Homo sapiens: one gene and its partners. The protein of the gene in region 1 purifies or fractionates together with the protein of each later gene. This does not show direct contact. Each region holds a gene or a part of one and is shown in the gene's direction. Other genes may lie near its edges. The genes, in order: DNA2, AKAP11, TARS3 and BORA.

Region 1 (7,000 bases):
AGCTAATTCTGAATCTTCATCCTGTGGATTAATAAATTAGTCTGGTGAAACAGTGTGAGAAGAGAATACTATACTGGGCAAACCTGTTGCACAAACGTGTGATGTAGTGTGACATGGAGCATTCAGGATAATGCAGGTAATTACGTTATTTCTAGAATATAAAATATAAGGAAGAGAGTAATTAGATCAGGTCATAGAATGTCTTACGTATCATTTTAAAAAGTTTTCCATCCTGGGCCACATAGTGAGACCCCCATCTCTCCAAAAAATTAAAAAATTAGCCAGGTGTGGTGGTGTACACGTGTAGTCCCACCTACTCAGGGGGCTGCGGTGAGATAACAGCTTGAGCTCAGGAGTTCAAGGCTACAGTGAGCCATGATCATGCCACTGCACTCTAGCCTAGGCAACAGAACAAGGCCCTCTCTCAAAAGAAAAAAAGTTTAGATTTTATTTATTCTATTGAATAAATAGAATTGTATTGAAAGGTTTTAAACAGAAGAGTGGGTAATCATTGGATTTGCATTTTCCTCTGGCTACATTGTAGAGAATTGAGTTCATTAATGGAAGAAAAACTAAAAGCAAACCTGGAAGCTGTTGCAGTGACCCAGGCTAGAGGAAATTGAGGCAGGGTAGTGTTGGCAGAGAGAATGGAATGACTTTGAGAAGTATTTAGAAAGTAAAAGTGGCTGGCATTTGGATACTGATTGGGTGTGTGGGTTGGGGAGAGGATGAGGGAGAGGGAAGGATCAAGATGGCAGTGCAAATGCAAATGCCAATGCCATTAACTGTGATCAGGACCAGAGAAGGAGCATCAGGTTCAGCAGGGATGAGGAGGAGTTCTGCTTTGAAAGTACTGTGCTTTCACAGCCTGGGTTTAGCTAAGTGGAGAGATCTCACTGCCTACTAAATATCCAAACCCAAAGCTTGGGTGAGGAACCAGGTAGGAGAGGAGTGTGAGGTCAGGCCTAAAGATGGAATTTGGAATTTGGAGGCACGTGAGGGCCTGGGACCCTGGAGCAAACAATGAGAAAGAGTAGTACAATGAACCAGGGAAGGGACTCTAGGGAATACCAGAGCTTAAGGGACAGATAGAAGACAGGGAGAAGGTGGCAGAAAAGAAGCCTGCACTCCAGGTTAGAGGAAGGAAGAGCCATGCATTCAGGATCCCTCTGGGGATGGTGAACCCGTGTTCGACTGCAAGGGTAAATGAATTTTCAGCAAATGTTGCAGGTTCCCAATTATTAATTGCTTTGACCTTGGTGCCTTGGACCTTCCCCTTCCCTCTGCCTTTTCCCACCAATCCAGGGCCTCATGCTGTCCTTGATTGGCAAGTGTGACTGAGGGCTGGTAGCTATTTTAATAGCTATTCTGGCCCATTCATTCTTTTAGCAGATAGCAGCATATTTCTTATACAGACTATGCGAAATGGCGAGCATTCATGTATATTTGTTTTGTTGTTTTAGAAACTTGTCGGTCCTTCCAGAATCAACTTTGTTCAGATTAGACCAAGAAGAAAAAAATTGTGATATAGATACCCCATTAGGAAATCTTTCCAAATTGATGGAAAACACGTTTGTCAGGTTTGTAACAATGAGCAAATTTGAATTTCACTCCACTTTTCTAAGGAATATTACTAAAAGTGCTTTTTCACTTTTCAGCAAAAAACTTCGAGATTTAATTATTGACTTTCGTGAACCTCAGTTTATATCCTACCTTAGTTCTGTTCTTCCACATGATGCAAAGGATACAGTTGCCTGCATTCTAAAGGGTATGCTAAAATCACCATGTCTGCTTTGATTAATTTTTCTTGTTTCTATTTGATTTATACTGTAGTCTAATATCTTGATTAGACTTGCAACTACAATGTTTAGACCAAGACTCTTTGGAAATGGTTTTGTATTGAAGAATAGACTTGGATAGAGACTGCTTTTCTTATGAAATAATTAACTTTTCCTTTGAAATTCAACACTCTTTTTCCTGTTATTTTTGAATTTAAATGTAGGTTTGAATAAGCCTCAGAGGCAAGCGATGAAAAAGGTACTTCTTTCAAAAGACTACACACTCATCGTGGGTATGCCTGGGACAGGAAAAACAACTACGATATGTACTCTCGTAAGGTTATTATTCTTCTGCTTAGAGACAAAATATTTGTATCAGCTTCTCCTCAGTTCAGAGGATGTAATATTGAATATCAAAAGGGCTGAATTTTAATTCAGTGTCTTTGTTTCAAATGAACTTTTTAGAATGATGAGAAATAGTAAAGCTGAAGCACAAACAGTTGTAATCATGTAGATTTCTCGCATTTAGAATTTTCTAAGATCGCTTTCCGTTAGTGGTATGTGATATTTATCACTATATGTTTTCCTTTCCCTTTAAAGATGATGTTAGAGGCCGGGCGTTGTGGCTTACGCCTGTAATCCCAGCACTTTAGGAGGCCAAGGCGGGCGGATCACTTGAGGTCAGGAGTTCAAGACCAGCCTGGCCAACATGGTGAAACCCCCTCTCTACTAAAAATACAAAAATTAGCCGGGCGTAGTGGCATGCGCCTATAATCCTAGCTTTACTCGGGAGGCTGAGGCAGGAGAATCACTTGAACCCAGGAGGCAGAGGTTGTAGTGAGCTGAGATCACGCCATTGCATTCCAATCTGGACAACAAGAGCAAAACTCCATCCTAAAAAAAAAAGATGTTAGAGATTTTTCTTGGATTTTTTTTTTCATGTCAGTAAATTTCTTTTTTTCTTTTCTTTTTCTTTTTTTTTTTTGAGATGGAGTCTTGTTAACGTGAGCCAGGCGAGGTGGATCATGCCTGTAATCCTAGCACTTTGGGAGTCCAAGTCAGGGGGATTGGTATTTGAGACCAGGTTGGAATGCAGTGGCATGATCACAGTTCATGCAGTCTCAATCTCCTGGGCTGAAACAGTCCTCGTTCCTAAGCCTCCCAAGTAGCTGGGACCACAGGGGCGCACCACCTCATTTGGCTAATTAAAAAAAGAATTTTTTAAAAAGAGATGGCATCTCACTTTGTTGCCCAGGCAAGTCTTGAATTTCTGGGTTCAAGTGATCCACTTGCCTCAGCCTCCCAAAGTGCTGGGATTACAAGTGTGAGCCACCATGCCTGGCCTATGATGTATTATTGACATATTATTAATAACGTATAATAATGTCATGTAATTTTTGTAAAATGTTTTGGCTTCATAATTTTTACTTGGCTCAGCTCTTAGATATGGTTCTTGTTAAGTTTATAAACATGTTAAAAATTATCTGGAATTAAAAGTAAGGCTGTTTTTTCTTTTTTCTCTTACCCATTATTAGGTAAGAATTCTCTACGCCTGTGGTTTTAGCGTTTTGTTGACCAGCTATACACACTCTGCTGTTGACAATATTCTTTTGAAGTTAGCCAAGTTTAAAATAGGATTTTTGCGTTTGGGTCAGATTCAGAAGGTTCATCCAGCTATCCAGCAATTTACAGAGCAAGAAATTTGCAGATCAAAGTCCATTAAATCCTTAGCTCTTCTAGAAGAACTCTACAATAGTCAAGTAAGCACAATTATTGTATAATAATACTAACAGTTAATGTCCACAGCCAGAATGAGGGGAGAAACTGTACTCTGGGAAATTTAGTCACATTGACTGGATTTGCACATGATTAATTTATATGTACTATACGACCAGTTTATTAACTTATAGTTTGCTATTTCCTTCTGATCTGAAATAAGGTTTTGGGTTTATTATTTAGGGCTCTCTTCTAGTTTCAAATATCCTAGGAAACTACTAATAATCAGGGTTTCAGCCAGGTGCGATGGCTTACGCTTGTAATCCCAGCACTTTGGGAGGCTGAGGTGGGTGGATCATGAGGTCAAGAGTTCAAGACCAGCCTGGCCAACATGGTGAAAACCTGTCTCTACTAAAAATACAAAAAAAATTAGCCGGGCGTGGTGGTGGGCGCCTGTAATTCCAGCTACTTGGGAGGCTGAGGCACGGAGAATCGTTTGAACCTGGGAGGCGGAGGTTGCAGTGAGCAGAGATCGCGCCACTGCACTCCAGCCTAGGTGACAATGCAAGACTCCAGCTCAAAAAAAAAAAAAAAAAATCCGGGTTTTTTAGTAAGTTTGAATTAGAAACAATGGTACTTAATAGTCTTGTGATAACTATCTCTAGGCTTTTATATAGAATCTAATTTTTATTTTATTTTGTTATTTAATGTTTATTTATACTGGGAGTTCTTAACAGATTTTTTTTTCTTTTTTTTTTTTTTTTTTTTGAGATGGAGTCTTGCTCTGTCACCCAGGCTGGAGTGCAGTGGCGCGATCCTGGCTCACTGCAAGCTTCGCCTCCTGGGTTCACACCATTTTCCTGCCTCAGCCTTCCGAGTAGCTGGGACTACAGGCACCCGCCACCACGCCTGACTAATTTTTTTTTTTTTTTTTTGAGACGGAGTTTTATTCTTGTTGCCCAGGCTGGAGTGCAATGGCGCCATCTCAGCTCACAGCAGCCTCTGCCTCCCGGATTCAAGCGATTCTCCTGCTTCAGCCTCCTAAGTAGCTGGGATTACAGGCATGCCTGACCACGTCCTGCTAATTTCGTATTTTTAGTAGAGACAGGGTTTCTCCGTGTTGGTCAGGCTGGTCTCGCACTCCCAACCTCAGGTTATCCTCCTGCCTCGGCCTCCCAAAGTGCCAGGATTATAGGCGTGAACTACTGCGCCCGGCTTTTTTTTTTTTTTTTTAATTGAACCTTCCACCAAGTAGCTGGGATTATGGGCGCGGCTATAGTGCCTGGCTTAACTGATATTTTTGTCTTTAAAAAATTTCCCAAAGATTAGATTTAATAGAGTGTTCCTTTACCTCCTTTGTCTAATGCTAGCATATTTTTGTCTAATATCTGTCCCTGTTATTGATAAATTTAGAACTGGCTAAGATGTATATCTGGTTAACATTTTTATTAAATTAAACATTTTACTTTGAGGTAATTGTAGAGTCACATGCAGTTGTAAGAAATACTAGAGAGAGCCTGTGTCCCCTTTATCCAGTGGTGACATCTTGCAAGTCTGTAGTACAATGTCACACCCAGGATGTTGACATTGATACAGTCCCTATTCTATTACCACAAGATTCCTCATGTTGCACTTTTATAGTTGTATCCACTCTCCTGCCTTACCCCTCCTTAACCTCTGACAGCCATGACTCTGAGACTCTGATCTCCATTTCGATAATTTGGTCGTTCGAGAATGTTAAGTAAATGCAATAGCCTTTTGGGATTGGTGTTTTTTACTTAGCCTGATTCTCCAGAGCTTCCCCCAGATAGTTGTACGTATTAATAGTTTGTTCCTTTTTGTTGCCAAGTATTTTTCCATAGCATGGATGTACTGCATTGTGTTTAACCATTCACCCTCTGAAAATCTGGATTGTTTCCAGTTTTTGGATATTGTGAATAAAGCTGCTGTAAACAATCATGTTACAGGTTTTTGCGTAACATAAGTCTTCATTTCCCTGGGATAAATTCCCAGTAGTACAATTTCTGGATTGATTGGTAGTTGCATGTTCATTTTTTTTTTTTAATCTGCCAAACTGTTTTTCTAAGCAGGAACATTTCACGTGTATGAGTGATCTCCTCAGCATTTGGTGGCGATACAATTTTTTTTTATTTTGAGACGGAGTCTCGCTTTGTCCCCCAGGCTGGAGTGCAGTGGTGCAATCTTGGCTCACTGCAAGCTCCGCCTTCCAGCTCATGCCATTCTCCTGCCTCAGCCTCCCGAGTAGCTGGGACTACAGGCGCCTGCCACCACGCCCAGCTAATTCTTTGTATTTTTACTAGAGATGGGGTTTCATCATGTTAGCCAGGATGGTCTCAATCTCCTGACCTTGTGATCTGCCTGTCTCGGCCTCCTAAAGTGTTGGGATTACAGGCGTGAGCCACTGTGCCGGGCTTTTTTTTTTTTCTGAGATGGAGTTTGGCTCTGGCGCCCAGGCTGGAGTGCAGTGGTGCGATCTGAGCTCACTGCAACCTTTGCCTCCCAGGTTCAAGCAATTCTCCTGCCTCAGCCTCCTGAGTAGCTAGGATTACAGGCATGCGCCACCACGCCTGGCTAATTTTTTATATTTTTAGTAGTGACGAGGTTTCACCATGTTGGCCAGGCTGGTCTTGAGCTCCCGACCTCGTGATCCACCCGCCTTGGCCTCCCAAAGTGCTGGGATTAGAGGCATGAGCCACCGTGCCCAGCTGATACTATTTTTAATTTTAGCCATTTTGGTAGGTGTTTGGAGATTTTAATTTGCATTTACCCAGTTAAAATGTGTGTGTGTGTGTGTGTGTGTGTGTGTGTTTGAGACAAGGTCTTGCTCTGTTGCCCAGGCTGGAGTGCACTGGTGAGACCACGCCTCACTGCAGCCCTGACCTTCTGGGCTCAAGTGATCTTTCTGCCTCAGCCTCCTGAGTAACTAGAACTATACAGGCATGTACCACCATGCCTGCCTAATATTTTCAATTTTTTTATGTTGTCCAGGCTGGTCTTGAACTCTTGGGTTCAAATGATCCTCCCACCTCTGTCTGCCTCCCAAAGTGTTGGGATTACAGATGTGAGCCACTGCATCCAGCCATAATGTGGTGGGGTTTTTTTTTTGTTTTTGACACGTTATTGCCCAGGCTGGAGTGCAGTGGTGTGAACTCGGCTTACTGCAACCTCTGCCTCCCAGGTTCAAGTGATTCTCCTGCCTCAGCCTCCCAAGTAGCTGGGATTACAGGCATGCGCCACATATTTTTTTTTTTTAGTAGAGACGGGGTTTCACCATGTTGTCCAGGCTAGTCTCGAACTCTTGACCTCAGGTGATCCACCTGCCTCAGCCTCCCAAAGTGCTGGGATTACAGGCTTGAGCCACCACACCTGGCCCATAATGAGTTTTTCATGTGCTTATTTGTCATCTGTATCTCTTCTTCATGTTTTTGCCCATTTTGGATTATATGCTTTGTAGTGTTGAGTTTTGAGAATTTTTAAAATGTATA
Region 2 (8,992 bases), on another chromosome or scaffold:
CTGTGTTCCCTGACTTGCCACCCTGCTGCCCTGGCTCCTTTGTACACCACTGGTCTCTCCTCTCCCTACCCCGTTTCTGTGAGGAGTATGAGCAGGGGACACCTGTTTTCTCCCTGCTGCAACATCCCAAGCATGGGACATGCCTTGACATTCATTTCCCTTAACATAGCACAGATTTGGCTTATAGCATTTATCAGGACTTTACTGAGGACTCCTGACAATACAAATTAAAGAGAATAAAGAATAGTCTGGTAAGACACCCTCCTTCCCCGCTTCTCTTTTTTTGAATAGTTATTGAGTACCTACTATGTGCCTTAGGAACTCCTAAGCAAAAACAGAAACAGCCCTTGCTCATGGATCTCACAGTTCAGTGGAGGAGGGAGACAGACATTAACTAGGTAACCACACAAATAAAAATTGTTATAAGTTGATAAATGCGTTGAAGAAAAAGTAGGGAGTCCTAAGTAAAGGGGATTTACTTAGTCTGGGGAGTTAGGACGAAAGTTCCTGAGGAAGTGACAGTAGAGTTGAAAGGTGAAGGATTCTTGGGCATTCAGCTGTTAACAGGGATGGACAGAGAAAGAATATTGGATCCTGAAGAAACAGCCTGTGGAAGGTGATGAGGCAGGCAGGGTCTGGTCCTATTTTGAGGAACTGAAAAGGGGACAGTCTGAAAGGGAGAATGATATGAAAGCAAAGGAGAAAAGCAGATTATGAGGAAAACCATGAGAAGCCACTGAAGGATTGTAAGCAGGGGAATGGCATGGTCAGATGCAGTAGAAATGGCAGCCCTCTGGAGATAGAGTGCACATACTTCAACCAGCAGGCAAAAAAGACAAATCCTGGAAGCAAAGGAACGGTGCTAGGAGGAGAAATATGAACTCTGTAAATGGGATAAATAGAACGTCTTCTATTTTTTAGAGTATTAAAAAGAATCAGCAACATCCACACAAAATTTGTATAGGAATATTCAAAGCAGTATTATTCATAATAGCCAAAAAGTAGAAACAACTGAATTGTCTGTCAACTGATAAGTTGGCCAATAAAACTGTGCTATATACATAGAATGGAACTGTTATTCGGCAATAAAAAATAAATGAAGTACTGATACACGCTTCAACATGGATGATCCTTTAACACATGCTAAATGAACGAAGTGAGACCCAAGAGACCATGTATTGTATGACTCCATTTATATGAACTGTCCAGAATAGGCAAGTCTTTTTTATTTTTTATTTTATTTTTATTATACTTTAAGTTCTAAGGTACATGTGCACAACATGTTACAGAGGTATACATGTGCCATGTTGGTTTGCTGCACCCATCAACTTGTCATTTACATTAGGTATTTCTCCTAATGCTATCCCTCCCCCAGCCCCCCAACCCCCTACAGGCCCCGGTGTGCGATGTTCCCCGCCTTGTGTCCTGTGTCCATGTGTTCTCATTGTTCAACTCCCATCTATGAGTGAGAACATGCGGTGTTTGGTTTTCTGTCCTTGTGATAGTTTGCTTAGAATGATGGTTTCCACCTTCAGAATAGGCAAGTCTTTATAGACATAAAGTTGATTGGCTGCTACTGAGTATGTGAGTTTCTTTTAGGGAGGAACAAAACTTCTAAAATTAGATTTTGATGACAGTTGCACAACTGTAAATCTACCAGAAGCACTGAATTGTATGGTAAATGGATTACATCTCAGTAAAACTGTTAAAAAACACAGTTTTAAAAAGAATCCAGGAACTGGGGACACAGCAGAACTGGATCTCAATCCTAATTTTTTCTCACTTTGTATTAATGTACTGCAAATAATTGTAGCTAGCACAAGAGAGCACAATGACTGTCTTGCTAAGGTGAGTTGGGAGGATTTATTTCGGGCTCTGTTAATACATGTTCGATTGGGAGAGTTGGGCCCAGAGTTCATCTAAATTAGTAGTACCAAGCAGCTGTTTCAGTTAATCATTATGAGGGCTGTAAACACTCAAAAAATACTCAATTAACATTTTAAAAGAATGGTCCTACTTTGTTAAAATAGTACTTTTTCTCTTTTTGGCGTTTTTCCTTTTAAAAAGTAGCCCTATGTATCTTGAAATCTTGCTTTCGTTAAAATTAAGGTGTTAGCTTAACTTTAGGATATTGCCTCAGACCTTTTAAAAAATGTATTTGCTATCTAGTTCTTAAACTCTGATTAGGAACACATGAATCATTATTTAATACTACACAGGTTCAAAATAGCTTAAGAGAGATGGAATTCGAGGTTGAGCAGGTGGCGGTGTTTCCGTTTTCACACTCTGAGAAGGCCAAGGTTTCTTAGGGAAGCATTCCTGGTATCTGTATCAACCGTTTTCAGAGTTATTCAGCTGGTGTGTGTGTGTCTAATTTCATTTGGGTTGAGCCGCTGACTCTGTTAGGTTTTCATAAAAAATCATTTCATTTCCCTTTCCAGCTTCCGTCCTACTGGTATGTGCATGTTAAAGTGTAATTCAGGCTTAACTACTTTAGGTGTAGGCTAGTTACATTGCTTTGTTTTATGTATGAGGAAGCTGAGACTCAGTGGTGATAAGGAACCTTGATTTGGTTGTATCACTAATGACAGAGCTTCGAGTTGGAACTCATCTCCTGATTCGTTTCTTTTGGTGAAACATCCTCTTGATTTCTGAGCTTTCAACCTCTATCTTTTCAAATCTTACACTAAAGAATAAGTATCTGCGTAGAATTTCATTTTCTGTTCCCAGAATTGACTTTAAGAATAGACAGAAGAGGTGGTTGTCAGTGTAGCATAATGGAGGGAAAAAAATTAAAGATGGGCCCTTCCTTTTCAGCCATTTGTTTTCCCCCAGGTAACAAAAGAAAATCCTCCATTTTATTTTTCCTAGTAATTAGGAGAAATCCACATGTTTCAACAAAGGCAGAAACAGCATGAGGACTCTGACCTAATGGATTTTAGAAATGTTGAGATCATAGGAAATTAAATTAAATTTCATGACTGTCTCTCACCTGGCCTATAAATCTCCTAATCTCCCTTACTTCTGCTTTGGCCTCTTTAAGACCCATTCTTTTCAAAGACGAGACTTTTTTTTTTTAAAAAAAAGTAAACTCTGGGTGTCTCTCCCCTATTAAAAACTCTGTAATACCTTATATTGCGTTTAGAATAAACTTTCAATTCCTTTCTTGGCTAACAAAGCCTTACAGGATCTGGCCCATGCTAGTTTCTGACAGAGCAAGAGCATCACCATCTTGGACAAGCACCGCCATTTTAAGTTCCCCTTGATTAAAAACCGCCTAAATCCAGCCCCAGAAACATCAGCCTAATGGCTAATGTCAGCATGACCATAAACCACAAATAACACTTCTGACCAGAAACTTTCCAACCCTGAGATAAACCCCACTCTGATCAGAAATATGCCTCCCCTCCAACCAGAGACATTACACCCCTGACAATAAAACTCTCCTCCACCCAGAAACATTCCAAGTCTACAATATGCTCTCCCTCCCTAAACCACTAAATACCTTTAGTCTGTAAGAGAGAACACTCCTGACCGAAATCGGCCAGAAGCCCCTCTCAGGTTTATTCTCCAAAATAAACCTGTCTCTGTTAAGCTGCTTTTTGTGTTTCTTTCTTTAACTCTTACAGTTTCCATCTCCAGGCTCAAGAAAGTTTACTTTCTCATTTCTTCTTCCCTCAAATGCACTAGAATAGATCCTTACTTAGGGCCTTTGAATTAGTGTTATCCTTTTCCTGGAATGCTCTATGCTCTGATTTTTGCGTCTGTTATTCAAATCGCTGCTAAAATATCTCCTCCTTAAAAGGGCATCCCCTTTACTAGCCACTCAGTCACCATCACCATCACGTCACTTATTGTAACTTCTTTGCATACAGCTTAAAACCAACAGATTTTTTTTCTTTTCACCCTCAGATAAGTTCCCTAGAATCTACACTACTTGTCTTCATCATTGTTCAATCAACAGCCTAGAGTAGTGTTTGTTGAATGAAGAAATGAACAAACGAATGCACCCTTTCTTCCGTGACCCTCTCCTCTGAACAGGGCAAAACTTAACTCATAACGAGGATACACTCAAAAATGTCTTTCTTATTGCCAGGTGTTTCCACTCTTGAGGAACAGATGCCCTTTAGGAGACAGGGCAATTTGACTGGACTGGCCCTTCCGATTTTAGGTGAAAATAATCACCATAACAGCTTTTCATCTCTGGCTAGGCTTCCCAGTGACCAAAGCTTTACTTTCCGATTTCCATACCACGTAAAGACATCAGGGTGAGCACTAGGGCCCTGAGAACCCTGGAAGCTACTTCTTGGCTGGGATAGGGCTGGTTGCCCGGTGCGCTGTGAGTGGTCCTCCCCGGAGATGCTGGGAGAAGGGGCGGAGCCATCAGAAAGGATGAGCCTTCCTTGGGCCTTCGGATCTGGTGGGGCTGCCACTTTGGGAAGGGCCCCGGGCTTCGGAAGAAAGCAAAACTAGCCTTGTGGCGAAGAAGGAGCCCAGCTGGCCCCAGGCTGTTAAGACTAAGGGGTCGAGGGAAAAGAGGCAGAGCCTGAAACCAAATCTGCGGAGCAAGCCAAGGCCTGGGGACTTGCCAGAGGGAAGGGTTAAGCCGTTTCCAAGGCAACGGACCAGGAAGCGCGCAAGACGTCCGCCGCAGGTTCGTAGGTCGCCCTCGAATTTAAAGCTCCCAAGGCTGAGTGGGTCCCGGCCAATGGAGAGGCCCCCTTTAAGTCATGTGACCAGCGGGGCTGCCCCGCGGGCTGCTCCGCGGGCTGCACTGGAGCACGTGGGAAGGCTTTTTTTCCTGTTCCTTCTTTCCCTTTTTAAACGCCCACCCACTTTTGCGCGGGCTCGGCCGCGGAATTTTTCTCGCGAGAGGCGCGCTGCCCTCTCGCGAGAGAGAGTGGGAGGCGTGGAGAGTAGGCGGTGTTGCGGGCCGGAGCTGCGGCGGCGGCGGCGGCGGCGGAAGCCGAGGGGTGGGCAGGGCGGGGGCGGGCCGCGGGGCTGGGAGGGGGAGGGCTGGGGGTCAGCGCGGGAGGGGGCCAGCTTGCTTGCCCGGCTCGCTCACGGGTCGTTGAGGCCGGTGACATGTCTGTGAGCTGCGGAGGCTGCGGCCCCCAGGTGAGCCGGGCGCCGACGTGCTCGCCGCGGAGGCTGCGTTTAGATGGGGTGGCGGCGGGTGTGCGGCCGGCATGGATGGAGCGGCCCGGCTCCGGCGCTCCAGCCCCTCCGCCTGCCGCTGGTCCCCCTTCTGGCTTCGGGGCCGCCCGAGAGCTGCGCCTTCGCATGGCGGAGGGAGGAGGGCGGGAGGAGCGCGGCCGAAGGAGGAAACTCACCGCACCGGGCCCAGAGTAGAGGGAGGTGCTGGGTCTCGAGACGCGTCTTCCTGGGGTCCCAAGTGTGGCGGTGGAGCTGCCGCCCCTTTTAATGACAGGCTGTTTCCATCCCCGGGGTGGTCTTCAGAGACGGCCCCCCGGGTGCGTGGTGCGCGTGCTTAGTGTGTGTTCGTGGTGTGCGCACAGGAACATTTGCAGCGGTTGGGAGGACGTTGCACTTTGTTCCCGAACAGCATCCTTCACTGTCAGACCCCCGGAGCCTTGGAAGCAGGCGCTGCTCAGATCTTGTAAACGGAAGGCGTCAAGGGGCTCCTCAGAGTATTGATATTTGGATTTGCTGTCAAATACTCTCCTAGGCTGTTAATGGCTTAAGGCTGGCCATAAAGTACCCCGAATGGATTGAGTATACTGCTGTTAATCCAGGCATCTAAGCTGCTTTATAAAAAATATGTAGATGTAACCGAAGTATTAAAAAGTGACAATGACAGTAAAAGCTAACATTTTTTCTCTTCCCCATATTACCAGCTTTCATTTTTTTTCTCTGCTTTGTCTGTCTTCTAAAACCATATAAAGTTGGATGTGGTTTAGCTTTAGATGTTAAGGAGTTTCATGGTGAGAAAGACTGCTGAGATACATACCTAATAGCTTTAGTACAAACTGGAGTTAATTCCTGTTCTCTTTTCAGCTTTTCAATCGCTTGCAAAATGCTCGTTTTGCTTAGCTGCTTCCCACTGTTTTAGAAATGTCATGTCGATTGTTATTTTGTTATGTCTGAAAATACTCAAAATATGGAGTACTAAGAAAAAATGGGGTATCAGTAATGCACAGATATATTTTTTTTAATGTCATCATTTTAGGATGGCAGCCCAGTGCCTGGCATGATTGGTGTCAGTTAAAATAGTGCAATTGAATGATTTTTTTTTTTTTTGAAAAACACATTTACTTTTTCAAACGGTACCCTGATTATTCATTTTTTCTTGTCGTTGTTCCTCCTGACAAAACTGACCCAGGGGTGGACAGTGAATGTCACTATTGTAGCTGTAACAGTAATTTATGAAAGGTCAAAGAATGTAAGGAAATCAGGGAAGAAGTGGGTTCCCAAGCTGAGCTAGAGACTAATGTATGTACCCACATAACTGCAGTATCGACAATATTGATAAGGGCCTAGCAGTGGACTCCTAGGCCAGTGATATTTTGCAGTTGTTGAGGATATGGGAAGTTGCCTAAGACATGGAACCATAGTGAGAAATTCTCTAGCCTTCTCTAGCCCCCTGAACTCCAGGGATAAGTCTAGAAGCTGAAGAAGTCCTCTTTTGCCTTTAGAGGCTGGAAAAAATACGGTACTTTTAATTTTTTTATTTTTTAATTTTAGGAACTTACTGTCTGGAAAAGGAACTCAAACCAATTTGGACAATATATTAAAGGCCGTTTTAAGAGAAAATGCCAGTTGTAAATAGGTAGAGGAATTCTGTCTATACGTGACAAAAATGTGAAAGACTTAGAAAATATCTCTTTGTGAATGGGCAGAGGAGACCAGTGTTGATTAGAAAAAATTCCTTCTTACTCCATCTTAGCAAACTAATTTTCAGAAGTAGAAAAATAAATTTTTTGGCTGGTCTTCATAACCTTTTGGCAAGGGTTTCAAACTTGTAGGGCGTGTGGTGTTTGGTTTTTCAAAAGTAATTGAAGTAACTTTGGATAGGGTAACTGATTTTGTTTTTTTTCCTGTCTTGTGGTCTGCATTTTATTAATCAACTACCTGGAAGGATTGAAGGGTGAGGACAGGTCGAGAAAAGCTTTAAGTTAAGCCTGGGCATGAGTTAAGGGTCAATGAGCTGGTAATATGGGGAAGAGAAAGAAAAATGCTTTATCAGTTTAAAAACAGCCTGGAAAGATCCAAGTGTCTCGATTCTCCCAGTCATCCTTACATATAAAAGTTTATTAAAAAAATACTTCTGGGCCAGGCTTGGTGCCTTACACTTGTAATCCCAGGACTTTAGGAGGCTGAGGCGGGTGGATCACTTGAGACCAGGAGTTCAAGACCAGCCTGGCCAACATGGAAAAACCCTGTCTTTACTAAAAAATAAAAAATTAGCCACGTGTTATGGCACATGCCTGTAATCCCATCTAGTCGAGAGGCTGAGGCACAAGAATCGCTTGAGCCTGAGAGATGGGAGATTGCAGTGAGCCGAGATCGTGCCACTGCACTCCACCCTGGGCGACTGAGTGAGACTCTGCCTCAAAAAACAACAACAAAAAACTTCTGGAGTAAAGGCATTTGAAATTTGTAGATTAGAGACTGGACATGGTAAAAGGAGAAAAGTTATCATTTTTAGAATAATCTGAGAATGTTTCTTGGGAAATAAATGGGGTAGAGGCCTGGAACAGAGAGGATGTTACTTGACTGAAAATGAGGTATATTGTAAAGAGTTTCGGTTTGGGAGTCAGGTCTATTAATTAAATGAGCCTCATTTTCTTCATACCCACCTCAAAAAGTTAGTGCGAAGCACATAGTAGCTGCTTACTCAGTGTTTTTATTTTTACCTCCCGTAATGGTTTGAGGATTCTTTGATTGCAAGGAAGAAAAAGCCAATTTAATTAGCCTACTTAAAAAAAAAGCATTTGTCATACAGTGCTGCTGAAGTCCATTGCATGATTCCAATTCAGCGTTTTGGGAACCAGAAAGTCTTCAGGCAGTTACTCTTCCAGTTTTTCTCTGGAAGCACATGGTCTTATGTCTCTGCTACTCACGCAGGTCTGTTCCAGTTTCTTTCAGATTGGCCTTCTCTTTAAAGCTCTTGGTTTCCACTTCCCCAAAACTTTGATTTGCATGAGACTTTGGTTTGCCATGATGCCAACATCAGACTCACTGACTATGCAACATGGTTCTCAGCAAACATCTCCAAGTCTCAGTTATGTTTCTAGAGAGAGAATCCAATTGGTCAGGTTTCTGCTTCTAGCACAGTTGGCTGGAGAGTGAGGAAAGATAGGAATGGGAAAAATGGATGAGGAAGAGACTTAGATTTGTCTCACAGTTTGCAGGGCTGCTCCTTTTAAACTGGCCATGCCAACATATTTAACAAAAGGAGAGTGGACAGGGAGGAAGTGATGGATACCTCAGGTGTGCTTTAACATCCTGCAATTTGAGTTCTTCCTCTGGCATTGCATTGAACTTGCTCTCAGCTTGGTAATGTTCTAACCAGATCTAACCAGTAGTCTCTTTACAGGACAGATTCTCCTGGGTGTGGGAGTTCAGGCAAATTACTGAAATGCTTGATGACTCAGTTTTCCTATGCGTAGAATGGGCATAATAGCACCTTCTGTGGTGAGAATTATGAATTCATGTATGTAAAGCAATTAAACAGTGTCTGGCATATGGCAGGCACAATGCAAGGGTACGGTATTAGTATTTGTTGAGAGCATACCGTGTGGCAGGTACTGTGATACAGGCTTCTGGTCGTGTTCAGAGAGGAAGGAATTTCTGCCCTCAAGAAGTCTAGAAGTCCAGTGCTGACCACTCATGCTTAAAACCATTTCTTGACTTCAGTGACACTAAATTCTTCTAAATCTCTACCTCACCTACCTTTCTGACTGCCATTTATTTGTGGTTCCTTTTATGCCGGTCCTGGAACCCTTTATCATGGTTGTCTTCATAGATG
Region 3 (8,844 bases), on another chromosome or scaffold:
TTTTAACCTAGAGTAACCTGTGTAAAACAGTAACTTTCTCTTTATATTTTTTTGACCAACGTACTTAAATATATTCCTGATTTTATGTTTTAAAACATACATATTGGAGAAAACATACATTTTGTTTTTTATTTTTTGGGTTTTTTTTTTTTTTTTTTTTTTTTTTTTCAGACAGAGTCTCTCTTTGCCTCCCAGGCTAGAGTGCAGTGGCACTATCTTGGCTCACTACTATCTTGGCTCACTGCAACCTCCGCCTCCTGGATTCAAGCAATTCTCGTGTCTCAGTCCCTCAGCTGGGACTACAGGCATGTGCCACCGTGCCTGACTAATTTTTCTATCCTTTTAGTAGAGACAAAGTTTTGCCATGTTGGCCAGGCTGGTCTTGAATTCCTGACCTCAAGTGATCTACCCCCCTCAGCCTCCTAAAGTGCTGGGATTACAGGCGTGAGCCACCACGCCCAACCAAAAACATGTACTTTGAAAACACAGTATTATCAGTTTTGTGGGCTTGAATAAAAAAATAGAGTTGGTTTTGGTAAAAAATTGCAGTATTCTTTTTTGTGCAGTAAAATATATAACATATAAAATTTACCATTTAATCCTAAGTATACAGTTCTGTGGCATTAAGTACATTGACAATGTTGTCAAACCATCACCAATCTCCAAAGCTTTTTATCTTGCCAGTCAGAAACTCTATACCCATTAAACATTAGCTCCCCATTCCCGCCCTGCCCCCAGCCCCTGGCCACCACCATTCTACTCTCCGTCTCTGAATTTGGTTCCTCCAGGCACTTCATATCAGTGGAATCATGACAATATTTATCCTTTTGTGACTGGCTTGTTTCACTCAGCAAAAAGTCCTCAAGATTCATCCATATTTTAATATTTTAATGTGTGTCAGAATGTCCTTCCTTTATAAGGTTGGATAATATTCCATTGTACGGATAGACCACATTTTGTTGATCCATTCATCCACCTGTAAACACTTGGGTTGCTTCTGCCTTTTGGCTACTATTGTGAACAGCGCTGCTGTGAACATGGGTGTGTAAAGTTCTGTTTGAGTCTCTGCTTTACTTCTTTTGGGAATATACTTAGAAGGGGAATTTCTGGATCCTATGGCAATTCTGTTTTTAAGTTTTCGAGAACTCGCCATACCGTTTGGTGCAGTGGCTACACCATTTTACAGTCCCACCAGTGATGCACAGGGGGTTCAGTTTTTCCACATCCTTGCCAACACTTGTTTTGTTTTTTTTTTAATCATGGACATCCTAATGGTTGTGAAGTGGTATCTCATTGGGGTTTTGTTTTGACTTGCATTTCTCTGATGACGTACTAATGGTGAGCATCTTAATGTGCTTATTGGCCATTTGTGTATTTTCTTGAAGAAATGTCTTTGGAGAAATGTCTGTTGAGCTCTTTTGCCCATTTTTTAATTAGGTTTTTTTGTATTTGAGTTATAAGAGTTCTTGATATATTCTGGATATCCATTTCTTAACAGATATGTGATTTGCAAATATTTAATTCTGTGGGTTGCCTTTTTTGCAGCTACTTTTAAGAACTAAACACAATTAATCTTTGTTAAGGAAAATGATTTGTTGTGAATATATAGATACGAAACAGTTAAATCATGCAGATACGGGTTTTTCTCCCAACAACTAGCTTCTTTAAGTAGTTATTTAATATAAAGTGCCTTGTATACCCCGATAGTAGTGATGGAAGCAGAAAAGAAAGGAAAAGGAAAAAAACCCTTAGTTTTATAAATATATCATCATTACGATAAACTTTGCTTTTGTTTTTATACAAATTAATAATATAGCTGTGTCCTTGTCAGAATTTTATTGATTAATGTTAAAATTAGATCTTCTAGAACAGTACTGTCCAATAGAAACATAATGGAATCCACTAGTCTGAGCTACATGTGTAACCTATAATTTTATGGCAGCTACATTTTAAAAGTAAAAGTTGCAATTAATTTTAACAAATTTTTAACCCAATATATAAAAAGTATAATTTCAATGGTAGCCAGTATAAAGAATGATTAACGAATGATTTTCTTCTTCTTTTTGCAACATTATACTTCCAAAGTCCAGTGTGTTTTATACTCACTGCACATCTTCTTTCAAATTAGTGGCATTTGAGGCCAGGTGTGGTGGCTCACACCTGTAATCCCAGTACTTTGGGAGGCCAAGGCAGGCGGATCACTAGAGGTCAGGAGTTTGAGACCAGCCTGGCCAACATAGTGAAACCCTGTCTCTACTAAAAATACAAAAATTAGCACATAGTAAAAATACAAAAATACAATACAGGCATGGTGGTACATGCCTGTAATTCCAGCTACACGGGAGGCTGAGGCAGAATCGCTTGAACCAGGGAGACGGACGTTGCAGTGAGCCAAGATGGTGGCACTGCACCCTAGCCTGGGTGAGGGAGTGAGACTCTGTCTCAAAAACAACAACAACAACCACAAATTAATGGCATTTGAAATGCCCAGTAGCCACGTGGCTTGTGGCCTCCATGCTGCACGGTGTCGCTCAAGGCTGTGAGCTCTTTGTATCCCTCGTGTCTCAGCACCTAGAACATCAGTAGATGACCTTTCAATGTTTCTTGAAGAAAAGTAGAGTTGTTTTCTTCATTTCAACATTGTGTGTAATAATGTGTAAATATGTTTTTCTTCGTAGTACAATAAATTTAAATGCCGCATTCTGAATGAGAAAGTTAACACTGCAACTACCACCGTGTACAGGTTTGTGTCCACACATGGTAAACGCTGCTCAGTGGTAAACTTGAAGGTGTTAGCAGTAGAGGCCGAGTTTGTTTTCTGGTTGGAGATCGATTTTTCAAGTTGTGTAGTTGATAATCTACCGTAGTTACAATCTTCAAAATGTTTTCACTAAAGAGAAATGATTATTTTCCCCTTTTTAGTAATCAGGACAGTACTGAGACCCATATTTTGTTTCCTGGGTGTTAGCTATAACAGGATTTTTCTCCATGTGAGTGATACTGTTGGGAAAGGAGTTTCTATTCTGTCCTTCCACGTTCTTATTAATGTGGCAGTGGGGGCCATTACAAGCCATCTCCTCGGCAGTGATTCTCTGCCTCATACTTACTGTCCAGAGTGCAAGTGTAGAAGAGTCTGCCCCATTGTCCAGAGTCCAAGTGTACAGTCTTCATGCATTAGCAGGATACTCATGATGAGACCAAAAGAAAATACTGGGAAACAAAGGCAGGATCAAATGTAAGAGGAGACAAGTGAAGTTAATACCAGAATCACTTAGCTCTGTTCATTTAACCTCAGGTTCCTGAGCACCTTTTTCTTTATTCGTGTGTATACGCCTTATATGTCATTGCTGTTCCCCTTTCCGTGTGTTCCGGCCATCTGGGTGCTGCTAGGACTATCACAGTACCGCCTTAGAAGACCTGGTATTTATTTAATTATAACCACAGATATTCTCCCTCATGGTACTTACTTTCGACAGTCAAGGACTTATGGTTCTCTGGTTTAATTGTACTGTAAGTAAAATCATATCCCCTTTGTGCAAAGCTATGCACGGTGCATTTCTTAAAGCTTAAAAATAAATGAAAATGTAGAAAACAGGCCAAGTTTTAAATTTCTGGCTTCTAATGCTTGAGCTCTTGGGTTTGAGAACCTTACTTACGTCAACATTGACACTTTTTGTAGTTTTTCAATTTGAATGGCTTGTATTTAATTTTTGAAAAAAAAATAAAGCTTTTCTTTTATGGCTTTCTTTTTTTTTTTTTTTTTAATTTTTTGAGATGGAGTCTTGCACTGTTGCCCGGGCTGGAGTGCGATGGCGCGACCTCGGTTCACCGCAACCTCTGCCTCCCAGGTTCAAGTGATTCTCCTGCCTCAGCCTCCCAAGTAGCTGGGATTACAGGCGCCCACCACCACGCCCAGCTAATTTTTTATATTTTTTATTAGAGACAGGGTTTCACTATGTTGGCGAGGCTGGTCTCGAATGCCTGACCTCGTGATCCACCCGCCTCGGCCTCCCAAAGTGCTGGGATTACAGGTGTGAGCCACCACACCCGGCCCTGTGACTTTCTATGTAAAGATTAGAGTATTGAAGCCTTTCATGCTAATTTGGCATTCCTTCCCTTCATCTGAGTGTTGTTTACAAGCTCTCTCCCTAGAGAACAATACACAAAGACTGACCATTGAGAGAGATGACATTTTCGTGTTTGCCACTCTGTAAGCCAGTCCCTTTTTGTATTCATTGTAATTTTTAAGTTTTTAATCAGAGAATTGCCTAGTTTCTTTCAGAAGATGTTCTGTGGTTTTTGAATCTAGAGGGCAGAGTGGACTCTGAGGCTAGATGAATCACCTCTCTCCTTCACCCTAAATTAAAAATGGCATTGCTACATATAAATAAGTGAAGCTCTACCTAAAACATAGGATATTATGGCTTATAATGAATAGTCCAGAACACTGTAACTGTGCCTGAGCATGTCCTAAATATTTCATTATAGGTGCGGTCCATTAATTGACCTTTGCAAAGGTCCACATGTAAGACACACTGGAAAAATTAAAACCATCAAAATTTTTAAGGTAAGGATTGATTTTTTTTTAATACAGTAAACTTAAGGTGCACTAGCTATTAAAGGATTTTAATCATATCTTATTCAATCATATCTTTTGTAGTCTGAACATCATGATATTTTAAAATATTTCATTCTTATTTGATGAAAACTAATAAAATCATTTAGAATTTTGATAATTAGAACACTATAGGTGGCTTTTGTTTATCATTTTACCTTATTGTAAGTGTTATAACATTTCTTTTTCATACGATATTTTATTTTATTTTTTATTTTTCTGAGACAGAGTCTTGCTCTGTTGTCCAGGCTGGAGTGCAGTGGTGTGATCTTGGCTCACTGCAATCTCCGCCTCCTGGGTTCAAGCGATTCTCCTGCCCCAGCCTCCTGAGGAGCTGTGATTACAGGCCTGCACCACCCCACCCGGCTAATTTTTCTATTTTTAGTCGAGATGGGGTTTTACCACATTGGTCAGGCTGGTCTCGAACTCCTAACCTCAGGTGATCCGCCTGCCTCAGCCTCCCGAAGTGCTGGGATTATAGGCATGAGCCACTGCGCCTGGCCTTTTTCATACACTATTTTAAAATATTGTTCTATATACTATGGTTTTCTTGAATAGCCCTGATGTAAGCAAGAATATTTGTCTGCATGTGAAAGTAATGTATTGCGGCATAAAGAAAACAGCAGGAGGGGATATGATGTTGTAATGGAGAAAACATCGCTCTGGGATTAGGAGGCATGGGACTGACTTGGCAGTCCCAGCCTTTCTTGGCTTTGATTTTCTTACAGGTAAAATGGGGCTGGCTAATGGCACTGTTCTTAATCATTGACTGTAGGTCAGCAAGACCGACCTTTACTTCCCCATACCTACTGTCTGTTCTGCCCCATCCTTGGTGATTATGATTGCTGCTTAGCCTTCCCTCCTTTCTGTGTGCTCTCACTGTCATTCCTAGAATCCATAGCAGACTCTACATAATTTGCTGGTTAATGGTATAATTTAGGCTGGGAAGGTTTAGTTAGAATCCATTTTAAGATTGTTCCCAGCACTACAAATAGTCTTCTTTAAGCTTTGTTGATTTTGTTTGTTTGTTTGTTTGATTTTGAGACAAGGTCTTGCATTGTCACCCAGGTTGGAGTGCAGTGGCACAAACACTGCTCACTGCAGCCTCGACCTCCTGGGCTCAAACAGTCCTCCTGCCCCAGTCTCCCAAGTAGCTGGGATTACAGGCATGTGCCATCGTGCCTGGCTAGTTTTTGTATTTTCTGTACAGATGGGGTTTTGCCACGTTGTCCAGGCGAGTCTCAAACTCCTGAGCTCAAATGATCTAACCACCTTGGCCTCCCAAAGTGCTGGGATTATAGGCATGAGCCACCATGCAGGGCTGCTTTGTTGATATGATAGTGGAAAATTGCATTTGTATTTAAGAGCAGTTTTACTTACAACTGAATGTATGATATATTTACCAAAATCCTCTTTGATATTTAGAATTCCTCAACATATTGGGAGGGCAATCCGGAAATGGAAACATTGCAGAGGATCTATGGAATATCCTTTCCTGATAACAAGATGATGAGAGACTGGGAAAAGTTCCAAGAGGAAGCAAAGAACCGAGATCACAGGAAGATCGGGAAGGTATGCCCCACATCTTAATCACTGGAGATGTAATCATAAGCCAACATAGGAATGTTTCTGTCTCACAAAACTAAGTTGCTTTAAAAATAAGATTTCTTCTTCTTCTCTCCTATTTTGCTGGCACTCACAGTCCGCTGCTCAGTGCTTTCATTTTAATACCCCAGATGTCTTCTAACCTCTTTCCTTCCTGTATCTTTTATTAATTTTTGAAAATTGTACCCTTCTCTTATTTTTGTCATGATAAAAAATAAAGTTGTTTTTGGTGAAACCCCACCTCTACTAGAAATACAAAAAAATTAGCCAGGCGTGGCAGCACGCGCTTGTAGTCCCAGCTACTCTGGAAGCTGAGGCAGGAGAATCACTTGGGCCCGGCAGGCGGAGGTTGCAGTGAGCTGAGATCGCTCCACTGCACTCCAGCCTGGGCGACAGAGTGAGACTCAGTCTCAAAAAAAAAAAGAGTTGTTTTTTACATTCTGTGCACTTTATAGCATCCTTTGTATCTGGGAGACAGAGCAGCGTGTAGAAGGAAAAGCTCAGACTGGAAAGCAGCTCGGCCTGAGCTTTATGCCCAGTCCTTGTACTCACTAGTTGTGTTAGATGATGGGCAAGCTCCGTGTCCTTGTCTTCCTTGCTGGGTAGCCTTGCAGGGTGGCTGTGAAGACAGAAACTGGGTGACGGTGCCTGGTACAGGATAGGCTCTCAGTAGGCAGCAGCCATGATGATCATCATCACCTAAAGCCCACCTCCTGCAATGAACTTTTTTGGTCTTTCTACCGTGTTGTCTCCCCATGAGTGCCGTACTCCAAGTGTGCCAAGTAAGAAAATTCGCAGAGAATAGCAGAAGGTGAAGTAAAAGCTAAGTTCAAAGCTAATTAGGCATAAATATGATTGGAAATTTTACATATGCTGTTGCATGCATTTAGGTATAAGTGTTGAATGGCCTTGGAATGTCTATTACTAGAGAAGATGGAAATAACTGAGTATTATATGTGTGTGCAGTAAATATTAAGCAATAGCAGATGACATTTGAAATGCAATTTTTGTTTCAATCTAGGAACAAGAACTTTTCTTTTTCCACGATTTGAGTCCTGGAAGCTGTTTTTTCCTTCCCAGAGGAGCCTTCATTTATAATACGCTTACAGATTTCATACGAGTAAGTTAACTTTAAAATGTTTTATTCTTATTCAATTCCAGTTTACATTTTTACTATTTTCTCTCATAATAAAGTGGTCAAGCGTTTCCATTAACTTTACTTTGGTAACATTAATAAGAATTTTGAGGTTAAAAGTGAGATACTGGCCAGACACGGTGGCTCACACCTATAATCCCAGCACTTTGGGAGGCCAAGGTGGGCAGATCACCTGAGGTCAGGAGTTCGAGACCAGCCTGGCCAACATGGTGAAACCCTGTCTCTACTAAAAATACAAAAATTAGCCGAGTGTGGTGGTGCACACCTGTAATCCCAGCTACTTGGGAGGCTGGCAGGAGAATTGCTTGAACCCGGGAGGCAGAGTTTGCAGTGAGCCAGGATTGTGCCACTGCGCTCCAGCCTGGTGACAGAGCAAGACTCCATCTCAAAGAAAAAAAAAAAAAAAGTGAGGTACTAGATTGTACCTTCTAATAATAACATGGAGATAATTTCTGTTTCCCCTGAATACATTCCTGGATTTCATAAAATTCACTTTTTGTCCATATAAGTTTCTAAACCATGTAGAATATAAAGGTAAGCATTAGACTAAGTGTGGCACTCCCTGTGAAAAAGAAGAAAGGAGAAAGTGTCGTCTCTGGTACAGAGTGTTAAGCCATGAAGCATTGCTTCTCCAAATGTGCTCCATGGGCCACTGATGCTTCCCTTTGCCTATAGCATGACTCCCAGGTGATTTGGCAGTTCCAGAGGAAAGAGGAAAAAACCAACAGTGCAAAATACCTACTTGTATTACAAGTTCATAGGTGGGAAAGTCTTTAGTATTTACATGATAAGGACTGTGTAGATAGTGTTCACAGGTGATCCGGGTGGACTACTGGGATTACATTTCCATGCTTGCACTGTTTTGTCTTTCCTATAATCATTACCTAAATTTTTCATTTACTTAGTTTTTTTATGTGCCTACCACTAATTCATGCTCCAATTTCTCTCAAAAACTACAAATCTCCTTGCAACATATTCTGCAATGATTCAGGTAATTGCTCAGTAATTTTTTTTTTCAAATTTGGTCCTACTCCAGAATTAACTTGCTACTAAGATTCTTGCAAACTGATGGCTTAGGACTTCTTTTCATCATCATCTTGGCCACTCCCCTCATGTCTCTTCCTATGCTGAGTCTCTTTTCCTGGTCCCTGTATATCTCTTCGTTGCTTATCTTTAATTCTCATTTGGGGATCACTTTCTTCAGTAACTTTCTGAGAAGACAATCCATGGCATGTGGCCTGCACTGGTTATTCTCTGTTTGCTTCTCCAGTCTTGTTCTCCGTCTTTTTCTTCTTGTGCTGTGCCCCTGGAGGCTGACATGTCTGTATTCTATCACCTGGGGTACACATCTTCCAGTAGGGACTGGCCAATGCGAGGCAATGGTAGGAGATCAGAGGGCAGTGGAAGAGACTTGAAGAATCACTGAAGATTATCAGAGATTTACATTTAGGCAGGTGGTGATGACCAT
Region 4 (6,618 bases), on another chromosome or scaffold:
CTGAGGCATGCAAGAGGGGGTAGAATCTAGAACCCTGATAGGAGTAGCCGCAGTAACTCCTCCATGTTTAAAGGAGGGCAGGGTGCCAGGATGGGTGTGGGTGCAAATGTATTTAGTTGAGGCGCGAGCATGGCATTAAAGAACATGGGCTTGGGAAACCGTAATGGCAGATTTCAGTTTATAGCCCAGCTCTGTTAGCTTTATAAATCCCAGAAAGTGACAGTTTCTTTCAGCTTGTTTCCTCTTCTTTAAATGGGGATAATAATAGGATTACAGGATATTAGCATGATCATTGTGATTAATATAAGTAAACAGTGCCTGAACACTGTTGGTGGGAATATGAATTAGTACAGCTATTATGGAAGTTCCTCAAAAAACTAAAAATAGAACTACCATGTGATCCAGCAATCCCACTAGTAGGTATATATCCAAAGGAAAGGAAATCAGTATGTCAAAGAGATACCTGTACTCCAGTGTTTATTGCTGCACTATTCATAATAGCCAGAATATGGAATCACCCTAAGTGTCCACTAATAGATGAATGGATAAAGAAAATGTGGTATATATACACAATGGAATACTATTCAGCCATAAAAAATAATGAAGTCCTTACATTTGCAGCAACATGGATGAACTGGAGGACATTAAGTGAAATAAGCCAGGCACAGAAAGATAAATACCACATGTACTCCCTCATGTGGAAGCTAAAAAGGTTGATTTCATAGAAGAGTATAGAATAGTGGTAGGTAGTAGAGGATGGGAAGGGTAGGGGGAGCAGGGATAGGGAGAGGTTGGTTAATGGATACAAAAGTACAGCTCGATAGGAGTAATTCTAGTGTTCTATAGCTCTATACGGTGAGTGTAATTAACAATTTATCGTATATTTTCAAATAGCTTGAAGAGCAGATTTTGAAAGTTCCCAACGCAATGATAAATGTTTGAGTTAATGGATATGCTAATTACCCCAATTTGATCATTACATATTGTAAACATATCAAAATATCATGTACATCATAAATATGTGTAATTGTGTGTCAGTTTAAAATAATAATAAAAGCAAAAACATAAGTAGTAATGGAAGGCAAGGTCCTTTGAATGGTAACAAACAAGGGGGACTGAGAATGATGAGGGAAGGGCTAAAGTGCTGGGCCCAGATGTCAAGGAATGTTATCACAGGGCACAACTGTTGCCAATTGAAAGTTTTAAAAGACAATGACATCTGATTTATGTGGTAGAAAAATAAATTTAGTAACAAAGTGCATGTTAAATGACTGACATAGAGACACCATTTAAAGGCACCATGACCCAACTGGAATATAAAGTTTGCAATTAGAACCAAGTTTGAATTAGAGTTCTTTTATTTCCAGGCTGTGGGATCTTAAGGCAAGATTTACATAGCAGTGAATAGAACATGACTTTTTAATTTTTGTCCCCTCATCCTTCTTAGCTATAAAGTGAGATTGATGCCTGCCTTGATGCCTGTGGGGGATAACAAGGTATCTGTTGCCTGGTTGGTACATATTAGGCATTGACATTAGCAGAAGTCTAGATGAGAGACAGTGAAGTCAGCCACCATCTCAACTTGGCTCTCATCAATCCTGCTCTTCCCATAGTGTGGGACAAACTCCCCGCATGCCTTACTTCCTGCTGTACTAATGAGTAACTCTTCCCTCCATATATATCCAGTTACATATTAGTATTGCATTATAAGCCAGCTATTTGGCAGTGATGAATATTAGAAGGAAGAGCTATTGGCAGAATCTCTGGGAGCAATCTGACATTTATATTTTTGATCAAGTAGCTATTGAATGATAGCAGAACAAGGCTTTTCCCCAAAAATGTTACACATCACAAGGCTTTTGTTCTAATTGGAACATGACCTCTAGTAGTAAGCAGATATGTATCCAGCCTTGAAATCTGGGAACATTTTTTCAGGATTATTAAGTGATAAAGAGTGCCGTTTCTAGGCTAGTCTGTACCTTTGTGAGGGAAACAAAATGACAGTCAGCTTTTTCCTTCCCTCTGATCCTAACTTGCAGGGAGGGCTTAAATGCAAAATGATTCCCTTGTGGATTGCTTTCTTTGGTGCTCAGCATTATACAGGTAAATGGAGCGTTGTGCAGTGAACAGAACCTGGACTTAGGTCTCACATCTTCATCACCTCATCACTGGATGACATTGTGAAAGTTAAGCTTTTTAAGCCTTAATTTCCTTCTCTAGTAAAGTATTAGGGTTGTTGAAAGGAGAAAAAAATATTAAATATATAGAGATAGTGCCTGGCCTTTTTAGACACTCAATAAATGTTTCCAAGCTGGAAGTTCGCTAGAATCTTTCTTTTTTGCTCTTTTGCACTGAAACAGTGTATCTTAGGATGCTACAATTTTTATTAACATGAAAAGCTGAACTAACATCTAGAGCCATTATATATGTGGCATTATTGTGAACAACTAGGTGTAAATATAATATAATCCACTTTTTTAAAGGCAGCATGCCTCAAGCCATTTAGAGACAAGCCTGGAAAATGCGTTGGAAGGTGAAGTTAGTTGTAATACTCATTTTTGTCTACTAGGTACGATCACAAAATAACAGGAAAGCATTGTGTCAGTAGGCTGTTCACTGATTCTTAAGGAAGTTACAAGATATATTTCATTGGAAGGAATTGTAAAATGACTACAATAATCAGTACTATGCAGGACTACCTTTTATATTTGTGCATTACTTTTGAATTTTGTTCAACATGATCAATATTACATGTTAGGATCATTCAGATGTAGTGAATGAGAGTTTATAGTGGTTTACTTATTTAAATATTTGACTTTTAAGTTCCTCACAATATATTTTTTTCTTTTTTCTCCTGTCAGATGGATAGTGGCTATAATACGCAGAATTGTGGAAGCAATATTATGGATACAGTTGGGGCAGAAAGTTACTGCAAAGAAAGTGATGCACAAACATGTGAAGTTGAGAGTAAATCTCAAGCATTTAATATGAAGGTACGGAGAAAATATAGTGAAAGCTTAATATTGTTTAGATTAGAAATATAAAATAATTTTGATTATTAGACAATAGTACTATTGAGAAACTATATGAAATTTAAAACACTAAAAGGTAAGCCTGTTTTCTTAACATCCAATAACCTTTAAATATTTTGGTTACTCTGAATACACAAGTATCTTACATACTACAAAGTGTGCAAAGGTAGCGTGTATTTGATGAGGGCATTTACTGAACCTTCCAGGTGGTGGTTATATATTCATACTTGAAGAAACTCATCATAATTTCAGGCACTAGTCAGGACAGTCTTTAATTTTATGTGCCAATTTTTTTTGCATTTTATTTTTTTGTAGAGACAGGGCCTGCTGTGTTGCCCAGGCTGGTCTCAAACTCCTGGTGTCAAGCAGTCTTTCTGCCTCAGCCTCGCAAAGTGCTGCGCGATTACAGGCATGAGCCAACATGCCCAGCCTTGTATGCCGTTTCTTTTTTTTCTTTTTTTTTTTTTTTGAGACAGGGTCTTACTCTGTCACCCGGGCTGGAGTGCAGTCGTAGAATCAGATCACTACAGCCTTTAACTGCTGGGCTCAAGCAATCCTCCTGCCTCACCCTCCTGAGTAGCTAGAACTACAGGTGTGAACCACCTTGCCCTGCTGTTATATGCCAGTTTCTTATAAAATACTATAAATATCAGCAAATGTGCAACAAATGTTTAATAGGGAGGCCACCTTAGTTTTCCTTTCTGTTGTATGTAGTAGGAGCAAACTGCCTTTCTGTTGTATGTAGTATCAGAGCAGGTCTCTTCTAATATTAACCTGAACAAAATCCATCCTATTTCAGGATGCAGTTGTCTATCTAAACATAAGTAGAGATAAATGAAGGATTTTTTTAAATTTTATTATTTTATTTTTTTTGAGACAAGGTCTCATTCTGTCACCCAGGCTAGAGTGTAGTGGCACGACCACAGCTCACTGTAGCCTTCACCTCCCAGACTCAAGCAGTCTTACCACCTCAGCCTCCTGAGTAGCTAGGGCTACAGGCATGTGCCACCACACCCAGCTTTTTAAAATTTTTGGTAGAGACAGGGTCTCACTATGTTGCCAGGGCTAGTCCCAAACTCCTGGGCTCGTGCGATCCTCCCACCTTGGCCTCTCAAAGTGTTGGGATGCTTTTTGATGCAGAATATTGATTTATAAAATACTGTATCTTTACTGTCCCTTCAGAGTTCAGCTAAAGAAACGTGCTTTTAGGTTTTAAAAACAGTCCCGATAATTGCATCCTCCAGTGGTCCTACTTAAACTGAAAACAAGGTATTGTCTTCTTTTTCACAGCAAGACCACACAACACAGAGGTGTTGGATGAAAACAGCAAGCCCTTTTCAATGCAGCAGTCCATAGAATGCCTCTGTCAGAATCAAAGACTAAGCTTAAGAGTTCCTCGCATATATCGTTGTGCACAGGATCAACATGATGGTGACTGGGAAAAAATTACTTCAAGTAACATGCTTAGCTTTCCCTCCTTAATGTGAAAAATCAAGGGCTTACTGACATAGGAACAACAGAAATGCTCCTGGAACTTCAAGTTGCTGAATTATAAGTTTATTTTTTATCAATAAATATTTTTATACTTACATTGAGTGATGTGTTTAACAACAAATTGTGACAGAGCTGAGTGCTCCTATCTTACAGGGTCAATGAACTACTTATTAAGCCTTACTGGTAGCACTGAATTTAGCAGTTCTGAGAACATGTGAAACTATGTTAAAACTGAAGGCACTATATATTTTTACATAAAAGCTTGAACATACAGATGAATTATAACCTATGTGAAGAAATCTTAGATATAAAACTAACTTTTCAAAGATACAAAAGAAATTAAACAGGTTTCCTGAAATTTTAGTTCTTGGTCTGTTCACCTCTGTGGGGAAAATTCTTAGTTCCAGTGATAACTGTTCTAGTTACTACTTTTAAGTATGTAAATACTAGAAAGGTAGTACTAGTGACATCATCACGTGTATTGTTATCTATGGGGCAAATGTGTGGTGCCCAGAATAAAATATACCTCATGCCTAGGGTAGGGACATCCTTTCCAGCTCAAACGTGGGTAGGGATGTGGGAGAATAAGAATGTGGGAGAACCAAGAGAAAAAGTGGGGCTGGGAGAGTGGAGTTCCCGTAGGGCATAGGCCTGTGAAGTAACACTGGGGCAGATATGTATGTTATATACAACTATTTTTTTAAAAAACTTATATCCATGTTGGGAGTAGATGGGTATATAACAGTTTGGAAATACTATCTTTGGAGAATGTATTTTTGTATTTATAAATCAACTTTTAAAAACTGTCTCATTCAAAAGGGAATAAAGACCTGTGTTATCAATGTGTCATTTTCTTCTTTCCTCCATAACTGTACCTTGAAACCTTACTGCTGACCTGCAGAAAATGTGCCGCGTTATGTACCTGGCTCATCTTCAACACACTAACCATGAACACTAATAGCCATTAGGGGACATGGCTACAGATACTACATTGGAAAGTTGTCTTTAATCACACAGGTGTTAAACTCAATATAAATTTACCTAAAAACAATTGCTATACCTAAAAGGAGTTCTGGGTACTAAGGGTAGAAGCCTCACTGGCTACAGTTTTTTAATAGTACAAAAGTCAAGAAATAACACAATAGTGACTATAACCTGTATTCAAATCCCTACTCTGTCACTACTTGATCTGGGCTGATATGGTATGGCTCTGTGTCCTCACCCAAATCTAACCTTGAATTGTAGCAATCCCCACGTGTCAAGGGTGGGACCAGGTGGAGGTAACTGGATCATGGGGGCGGTTTCCTCCATGCTGTTCCTGTGATAGTGAGCCGGTCTCATGAGATCTGAAGGTTTTATAAGCGTCTGGCATTTCCACTGCTGGCAGTCATTTTCATCCTGCCGCCCTGTGAAAAAGGTGCCTGCTTCTCCTTTTTCTGCCATGATTGTGTAAGTGTCCTGAGGCCTCACCAGCAATGCGGAACTGAGTCCATTAAACCTCTTTCCTTTATAATAATTACCCAGTTTGGGGTATTTCTTCGTAGCAGTGTGAGAACAGACCATAAACCTCCATTTTCTCATCTGTTAAATGGAGATAACAGTCCTGGCTTAACAGGGCTTTTTGAGTTAAGTGATATATTCCACGTAACCTGCTTAGCATAAGAACTGGCACTAGAAACAGAACATTTTAGATTATGGAATAGAACTTAGGGGAAAATAGCAAAGTCTCTGATCATCTTGAACTACTCAATTGGGACTTATCCCTGAATTAAACCTTTCTAGTAGCTGAAGCACAAGAAAATAAACTTGGAAAGAAAAAACCTAAGGCCAGTCATGCACTGCCCTACTTCCCTTTCTTCTCTATTGCAGGTTAACTATGGCCTGTAGGCAGTTTTTCTTCTCTTTTTTTTTTTTTGAGACAGTCTTGTTCTGTCACCCAGGCTGGAGTGCAGTGGCGCGATCTTGGCTCACTGCAACCTCTGCCTCCCAGGTTCAAGCGATTCTCCTGCCTCAGCCTCCTGAGGTGGGATTAAAGGCACTTGCCACCACACCTGGCTAATTTTCTTTTCTTTTTTTTTTTTTTTTTTTGCGA

What was found.
Region 2: the proteins of DNA2 (region 1) and AKAP11 purify together in Homo sapiens (affinity purification with mass spectrometry; 2 studies listed by BioGRID and IntAct, with this or other methods). This does not show direct contact.
Region 3: the proteins of DNA2 (region 1) and TARS3 purify together in Homo sapiens (affinity purification with mass spectrometry; 2 studies listed by BioGRID and IntAct, with this or other methods). This does not show direct contact.
Region 4: the proteins of DNA2 (region 1) and BORA purify together in Homo sapiens (affinity purification with mass spectrometry; 2 studies listed by BioGRID and IntAct, with this or other methods). This does not show direct contact.

Annotation. Positions count from the first base shown.
Region 1 is NC_000010.11:68,426,974-68,433,973, reverse strand, and holds part of DNA2 (DNA replication ATP-dependent helicase/nuclease DNA2), read left to right. Parts: intron 1-1,463; coding exon 1,464-1,580; intron 1,581-1,658; coding exon 1,659-1,768; intron 1,769-2,002; coding exon 2,003-2,112; exon of another isoform or gene 2,113-2,117; intron 2,118-3,313; coding exon 3,314-3,538; intron 3,539-7,000. UniProt on the Homo sapiens protein: Key enzyme involved in DNA replication and DNA repair in nucleus and mitochondrion.
Region 2 is NC_000013.11:42,267,111-42,276,102, forward strand, and holds the start of AKAP11 (A-kinase anchor protein 11), read left to right. Parts: upstream 1-5,041; 5' UTR 5,042-5,118; exon of another isoform or gene 5,119-5,651; intron 5,652-8,992. UniProt on the Homo sapiens protein: Binds to type II regulatory subunits of protein kinase A and anchors/targets them.
Region 3 is NC_000015.10:101,699,582-101,708,425, reverse strand, and holds part of TARS3 (threonine--tRNA ligase 2, cytoplasmic), read left to right. Parts: intron 1-2,678; coding exon 2,679-2,743; intron 2,744-4,488; coding exon 4,489-4,567; intron 4,568-6,040; coding exon 6,041-6,187; intron 6,188-7,241; coding exon 7,242-7,340; intron 7,341-8,844. UniProt on the Homo sapiens protein: Catalyzes the attachment of threonine to tRNA(Thr) in a two-step reaction: threonine is first activated by ATP to form Thr-AMP and then transferred to the acceptor end of tRNA(Thr).
Region 4 is NC_000013.11:72,750,829-72,757,446, forward strand, and holds the end of BORA (protein aurora borealis), read left to right. Parts: intron 1-1,340; exon of another isoform or gene 1,341-2,861; coding exon 2,862-2,993; exon of another isoform or gene 2,994-4,322; coding exon 4,323-4,388; 3' UTR 4,389-5,368; downstream 5,369-6,618. UniProt on the Homo sapiens protein: Required for the activation of AURKA at the onset of mitosis.